Homo sapiens: one gene and its partner. The protein of the gene in region 1 purifies or fractionates together with the protein of each later gene. This does not show direct contact. Each region holds a gene or a part of one and is shown in the gene's direction. Other genes may lie near its edges.

The links.
Region 2: the proteins of ZKSCAN4 (region 1) and SCAND3 purify together in Homo sapiens (affinity purification with mass spectrometry; 2 studies listed by BioGRID and IntAct, with this or other methods). This does not show direct contact.

The regions. Positions count from the first base shown.
Region 1 is NC_000006.12:28,245,541-28,249,460, reverse strand, and holds part of ZKSCAN4 (zinc finger protein with KRAB and SCAN domains 4), read left to right. Parts: intron 1-1,311; coding exon 1,312-1,394; intron 1,395-2,368; coding exon 2,369-2,492; intron 2,493-3,485; coding exon 3,486-3,920. UniProt on the Homo sapiens protein: May be involved in the transcriptional activation of MDM2 and EP300 genes.
Region 2 is NC_000006.12:28,573,409-28,577,328, reverse strand, and holds part of SCAND3 (SCAN domain-containing protein 3), read left to right. Parts: intron 1-1,192; coding exon 1,193-2,685; intron 2,686-3,501; coding exon 3,502-3,920.

The DNA.
Region 1 (3,920 bases):
TTTTAAACAACATGGTGATCTCCATTCATTAGATATATTTAGGGAGCCTTCATCTATGGTAGCCAGTGTTGTAGGCACTGGGGAGAGAGCCACCAATAAGACAGAATTCTTGCTTTGATGGAGCTTACATTCTAGCAGGGAGGATAGAAAATAAATTAATAATATAATTTTAGATATTGTTAAGTGCTATGAAGAAAATAAGGCAGAATTTGTAAAGCCAGCCAGAACATTCCAGAGATAGTAGGACTGCTGCAAATAGAAGAGTGTAAATCTAAACCCTGTAAAGCCTGTGACTAGAAGAGTGAAAATCACTTAATAGGAAGCAGCTGTGTGTTCCATGCTGTTCCTCATCTGCTGTGAACATCTGGGCCGATTCCTAAGACATACAACACTTGGACATGCCATCCAACATGCAATCTTTATTTCTCAGCAGAGTTTCTGGCCTAAACCAACTTATTTTCTGCCCCTTGCAAATTGACTTATTGTAGGGAAACCTAAGGTTTCTTCTGCTTCTGAGTCTGAGCAAGTTCTATTTAAGCAGTCTTCCAGTCTTCCATTGCCTCCTTTCTGGACCCAGCCTTATTTGACTCCTCCTAGTTTTTCTTTTTCTTTTTTCTTTTTTTTTTTTTTTTTTGAGATGGGGGTCTCACTCTGTTATCCAGGCTGGAGTGCAGTGGTGAGACCTTGTCTCACTGCAACCTGTCTCCCAGGCTCAAGCAATCCTCCCACCTCAGCCTCCTGAGTAGCTGGGAGCACAGGCCCATGCCACTACACCTGCTAATTTTTTGTAATTTTGGTTCAGACAGGTTTCTCCAGGTTGCCCAGGATGGTCTCGAATTCCGGAACTCAGGCAACCCACCTGTCTCAGCCTCCCAAAGTGCTGCGATTACAGGGATGAGCCACTGTGCCTGGCCTCCTCCTAGTTTTTCATACCTGAAGTGGAAAGCATCCTAATATCTACTAAAGACATTTTAACCAAAACAAAACAAAAACAAAAAACCCTCTTTACTCCCCATCTCCTAGCAAAATTCAAAACCCAAAGGTCTTCAAATGGAAAGCTTTGTTATGTTGCATTCATTTCACCACTCCTACCAACGATTCTGCACGTGGTTTTTGTATATCTGCAGAGTGCACCAGACTTCTTTCGGCCCTAGGGCTGGAGCTGGTGGGAATCAGGCATTTTTGAAAGGAACACATTCTGTATAAACTTATTGGCAAGAACTTACTGCCCCAGTTTTTGAACTTGGATTTTGCAAGGTGGGGAGGCTGAATACTAGGGTAGTTCTCATCCAGAGCTTCTTTCTTTCTTAGTTCTCCAGGTTCCTGGGCTTGCCCAGGGAGGGTGCTGCAGAGAAGATGCAATGGTAGCTTCCAGGCTCACTCCAGGGTCCCAGGTGAGCTGGAGCTCCTCTCCCTCCCCAGCGCCCCATACCTTTCACTACTGTTGGGCTCCGCATTAAGTTCCTCCCTCCCCAGTCCTACCCCACCCCTATCCTAGATCTACATGAATTTGAGTTTTCTCATCTATCCCAAAGTTGCATATAATTGTCCACCTTCATTTTGGTGCCCACCTAAGAGGACTTTCCTGTTTCACAACAACCTTGGAGTTTTCTTTGTACTTCTCAGATCTTTCCTCCTACATTTCTTCGGTCAGCCTCTTCTTCAATGTGATTTTTCTCCTTCAACAAGGGCAGTTCCGCAAAAGCAAACTGAAGGTTTTGTTGGGATGGTCATTCTGTTTTGCTTTTTAAGATACAATAAGCTGTGCTGTTGGTGAGGGATATAAAGGCCTGGCCCTTGCCCTCAAAGAACTTATACTTGAAAGGTCAGATAAGGCATAGTTATCTTGAAGTTATTTATATTACAATATGAACAATCTTTTCTCAACCTAGATTTCAATTTACTACTCAGCCTTTCCTGTCCTGCTTGAAGATCTCAGTGTTTGAGGCTGTGTAGTATCCTTTTTTTCCCCTAATTTTTCTCACTTCAGTTCTAGATTTCATTGTATTTTTGAAGCTATTAATGTAAATGAACCCCTACTCTCACTTTGCCAAAGCATACTGCAAATCTTTTGAAAATTTTGGACATAGTTCCATTCCTTTTGCTGCATTGACCCTTGTCTTCCAAACCTTTTTACTTTCTGGACTGTTTAGATATTTATATGAAAGTACTTATCCTAAAATGTGTGTAATATTTCTTTCATTTGGCAGGTTTTCTTGATTAAGATGTTATTAGAGATAAAGCTAAATTGGTGTAGGTGTGCCACACTTGCTCCTTTTTAAAGAGCCTCTTTAAAGGGGATGTTCATTCTTTGCTTTGGGGGTAATTTTGGGCAAGAGGAGCTAGTTAGGACTACCTATTGTTTTAGGGTTTGCTGAAAATGGAAGATGTGGCCCTGACCCTCACTCCTGGGTGGACACAGCTGGATTCATCTCAGGTGAACCTCTACAGAGATGAAAAGCAGGAGAACCATAGCAGCCTGGTCTCCCTTGGTAAGACTGAGACACTAATTTGTCTTAAGATTTCTTGGCATTCTTTGCGTATTAGAACCTATTGGGCTGTTAGAAGCTGTTAAGCCCCCATTATGTTTGGATTCAGAATCACCATTCCTGAAAGCCTGTTACTGACTACTAGCTCCTTACTCCTTCTGACCTTGCTTTCTCCTCTGTCATGCCAGTGTTCTAGTTAGGATAAGTGGGGTGAAATTGATACAACTCCTTGTACAGGTCTGGCTCATAGGAGATGCTCAGTAAATGTTGATGTCCTCTTGTTCCTATCCCTGACTGAAGAGGAAAGCTGCGGGGAGGGGGGGGCCTCTTCAGGAAATGGGCCATGGATTCAGAACGTGAGAGCCAGAAGCAACCTTAGACATCAACTACAGACCCTGACCTTAGGGGTGAGGGTGCAGAGGCGTAGATTACCTCACTTGTTTGAAATCTCATAGCTTATTTGTGGCACAGTGGGGGCTCTACCTCAGAACTCCTAGCGCCAATGCCAGTTCTGTTTGAGAACTTTGCCTCTGCCTGGGCACAGTTAGAGATGACGGTCCATGTCATTGATCGATCACCAGTCACCAGTTTCTTTGCTTTTGCCATTTCTTGCAGGTGCTTCAGAAATCCTTCCACTTGCCCTGTTACTGTCACCCTCTGCTCACCCCTTTCAAAATCTAATCCTAGGTGCATGGCCCTGCTTACTATTCTTAGAGCTTAGAACCATCACATATGTCCCCTGCATAGTCCTGGGTCCTCACCATTTTCCCTCCACTCCCAGTTTGTACCCTTCCAATGGCCCCATTCTCATTCTCAGGCCTCCTTCCTCCCCAGCACCCCTGTTCTCCCTTTTTATTCCCATTCTTATTCTAGCACTTAAATCCTCATCCTGGGCATATATAGACTTCTGTAATTCTTGTCTCCCTAGTACTCATCACAGAGCTTTCCTCCCATGGCAGGGCATAACCCACAGTTGCCGGCCATTTGTTGTTTCAGGTGGTGAAATACAGACTAAGAGCAGGGACTTGCCTCCAGTCAAGAAGCTTCCAGAAAAGGAGCATGGGAAGATATGCCACCTGAGGGAAGACATTGCCCAGATTCCTACACATGCAGAAGCTGGTGAACAGGAGGGCAGGTTACAAAGAAAGCAGAAAAATGCCATAGGGAGTAGGCGACATTATTGCCATGAATGTGGAAAGAGTTTTGCTCAAAGTTCAGGCCTGACTAAACACAGGAGAATCCACACTGGTGAGAAACCCTATGAATGTGAAGACTGTGGAAAGACCTTCATTGGGAGCTCTGCCCTTGTCATTCATCAGAGAGTCCACACTGGTGAGAAGCCATATGAGTGTGAAGAATGTGGTAAGGTCTTCAGTCACAGCTCAAACCTTATCAAACACCAGAGAACCCACACTGGGGAGAAGCCCTATG
Region 2 (3,920 bases), 330 kb from region 1:
TTTCCAAGCAACTATAAAACTATCTAGAGATGTTATGCTAATTCCAAATTATTATTTTTTACTTTTTCCAAAATAGTTTTTTTCCTTAACACTTAGCCAAATTTGAAGTATTCTTAGTGTTTCTGTTATTATGAGTATTCTAGAAATTTCTTTTAATAAGCTTTATTAAGTCAGAAATTTTTCACTGATTTTGACTCATCCAGTACTCTTATTAAAATTAGTAATGAAGCTATTTGTATTGAGTTTGTAGTTAATAGCCCTAAAAGGGAGCTGATATGAATATATTAGGTTGGAACTTACTCCTCAAATGTTGATGTAATAGCTAACCTGACTGAATAAAAGAGAAAATGTGTAGTGTGGAGATTTTTTTAAAAATCTATTATTGTCTTGCTGAGGTTCCTCCAAAAAAAAAAGTCTGAGACCGGGTGTGGTGGCTCACGCCTGTAATCCCAGCATTTTAGGAGGCCAAGGCAGGTGGATCATGAGGTCAGGAGATCGAGACCATCCTGGCTAACACAGTGAAACCCCGTCTCTACTAAAAATACAAAAAAAAAAAAAAAGTCTTTGCATAGTAAACAAACAAGTAAATGTTAATTTGCATCCTATTTTACATAAAACAGTGCTTCAATCCTGAAAACTGCTCTGGAAATTCATGTCCTGGCTTTCTGCTCTTTATTGTTTGAAACTTTTTGTTATTGGCTGGAGTTTCATTTACGCTCTTCATTCCACCAAAGTTGGATTCCTTAATCAAAATGGTATCCCCCTGGCCTGGTGCAGTAACTCACGCCTGTAATCCTAGCACTTTGGGAGGCTGAGGCTGGCAGGCAGATTGCTTGAGACCAGGAGTTCAAGACCAGTCTGGCCAACATGGTGAAACCCCATCTCTACTAAAAATAAAAACATTAGTCAAGTGTCATGGTGCGCACCTGTAGTCCCAGCTACTCGGGAGGCTGAGATAGGAGAATTGCTTGAATCTAGGAGGCAGAAGTTGCAGTGAGCTGAGATTGTGCCACTGCACTCTAGCCTGGGCAACAGAGTGAGACTCTGTCTCAAAAAAGAAAGAAAATGGTATCCCCTTTTGTGTGTCCATATTCCCTACTTCTACCTCAAGCACTACTGGCTCCTTTGGCAATATATGTCTTTTAAATTATATTCCTGAATATTCTAATTGATTTTTTTCCTTTGTTTTTAGGGTCATTTTTGTGGTTTTCCATGATGTCTCAAAGCATGGGTGGTGATAACCTCAGTAGCTTAGATACTAATGAAGCAGAAATTGAACCAGAAAACATGAGAGAAAAGTTCTTCAGAAGCTTAGCAAGGTTACTGGAAAACAAAAGTAATAATACTAAGATATTTTCTAAAGCAAAGTACTGTCAGTTGATAAAGGAAGTGAAAGAAGCTAAAGCTAAGGCGAAAAAGGAATCAGTTGACTACCGTCGCTTGGCTAGATTTGATGTTATCCTTGTACAAGGAAATGAGAAGCTAATTGAGGCTGTAAATGGGGAAACAGATAAAATACGGTATTACTTACACAGTGAGGACTTATTTGACATTCTGCATAATACACATCTCAGCATTGGACATGGTGGACGTACTCGCATGGAGAAAGAGTTACAAGCGAAATACAAGAACATCACAAAAGAAGTTATAATGCTGTATCTGACCCTCTGTAAACCATGCCAACAGAAAAATTCAAAACTCAAGAAGGTTCTAACATCAAAATCAATTAAGGAAGTTAGTTCAAGATGCCAAGTAGATCTTATAGACATGCAGTTGAATCCTGATGGGGAGTACAGATTTATTTTGCATTATCAAGATCTCTGTACAAAGTTAACTTTTTTGCGGTCATTAAAGTCTAAAAGGCCTACGGAAGTTGCACATGCTCTTTTAGATATATTTACAATTATTGGAGCACCCAGTGTCCTACAATCTGACAATGGGAGGGAATTTTCAAGCCAGGTTGTCAGTGAACTCAGTAATATTTGGCCAGAATTGAAAATTGTCCATGGGAAGTCTCAGACCTGCCAAAGCCAGAGTTCTGCAGAACAAACTGAGGATATCCGAAAGAGGATTTTCTCCTGGATGCAAACTAACAACTCATCACACTGGACTGAATTTTTGTGGTTCATTCAGATGTCCCAAAATCAGCCCTATCACAGAAGCATGCAACAGACTCCATGTGAAAGTGCATTTAGCTCTGAAGCTAAACTGGGCTTGTCCCATTCTCAGCTAACTGAAGAACTTGTTGCCAGCTTGCATACAGAAAATGAATTAGATCAGGCTGACAAAGAGTTAGAAAATACTTTAAGAGCCCAGTATGAAGAAAACATTGAGACTGGAACAGACAGTAGTGATATTGAAGAGAATCTTTCTGTCACTCCTAAGGTGGCTGAAAAAAGCCCTCCTGAGAGCAGACTAAGATTTTTATCCTGTGTAGTTTGTGAAAAAGAATGCACAGGTGTTAATAGTTGTATATCATGTGATGGAAATATCCATGCAATTTGTGGAGTGCCCTCTCAACATGGGACTGAGGGCTGTGGTCGGCAAATAACTTGTAGCCTTTGCTATGAAACCAGCACAATGAAGAGGAAACATGATGAGATTCAAAGAAGTTTGCCTGTTAAACCTTCCAAAATGCTAAAGCCATCAGGGACACCATTTTCACCAGACAAAGTAGGAGACTGGGTAAGATTGAATATCTGCCGTAGATGAAAGCAGGGGAAGAATCTCATTACAGTGTACTGTGAATAAGTGTTGTGTGACAAGGTATATGAAAGCACATTTTTATTACCTTGGATATATTTCCCCCAAAGAAGGCCTAATTACTTTTAATGCTTCTTCTCAAATCAAGTGAAGAAGTATTTGTAGGGGTAGGGGATGATAAATTTGCTTGGAAGATATGGGTTTGTGTTGGGAAAGACTTCAGTTTGGGAATTTAAATGGAGAGCATGAAATAGAACCAAAAAAATTTAAAATCAATAGGCTTTATGAAGTAGGGTTAATGTTTTGAAATATGGAGGTTACTTATGACTTAAACTAGTGGTACGCAACATGTGATCAGTAGAGCAGTACTGGTATAAAAACTCCAGTCCATAAGGAAATAAATATAAAAATTAAGCGTAAATATTTAGAAACCTTTATAACAATTGACATTACTGCAACATCCAAGCACATGATTAATGGACTCATCTTACTGAATAGAATATAGACCAATTTAGGTATTGTTAAACTCTCAAGGTGAGTCACATGTGGTGGCAGTTACACACTAGTCAAACACAATAGGTCCCCATTACAACCTGTGATACTTTATGTTTCGTTTATCAGCCATAACCCAAAGATGTATAAAACTCTGAGAAAATATAGGCATTTATTTATTTTTATAACTTAACTTTAAAATAATTTTTTATTTTAATCAAATCTAGTTTTTAACTTGTGGTATAACACTGTTAGCTGAAGGAGGAAAGTAAAATTCATATTATTTACTTTTATTCCTAATTTCAGATGGCGAAACAAGCTTCACTGGACTTTTTTGTCAAGAAAAGACATGCCTTTTCTGAACACAGTAGTAGTAATAAAAGAAATGTTAACAATAGAAGTTATCCTGAAGAAGGGAAAACCAAAAGAGTTCATGCTAGTTTCACTCGGAAATATGATCCTTCATATATTGAGTTTGGTTTTGTAGCTGTAATTGATGGTGAAGTACTAAAACCACAGTGTATTATTTGTGGAGATGTACTGGCTAATGAAGCAATGAAACCATCAAAACTTAAGCGACATTTATATTCAAAACATAAAGAAATAAGTTCACAACCAAAAGAATTCTTTGAAAGAAAGAGTAGTGAATTGAAAAGCCAACCAAAGCAGGTGTTCAACGTTTCTCATATAAACATTAGTGCTTTGCGGGCTTCATATAAAGTAGC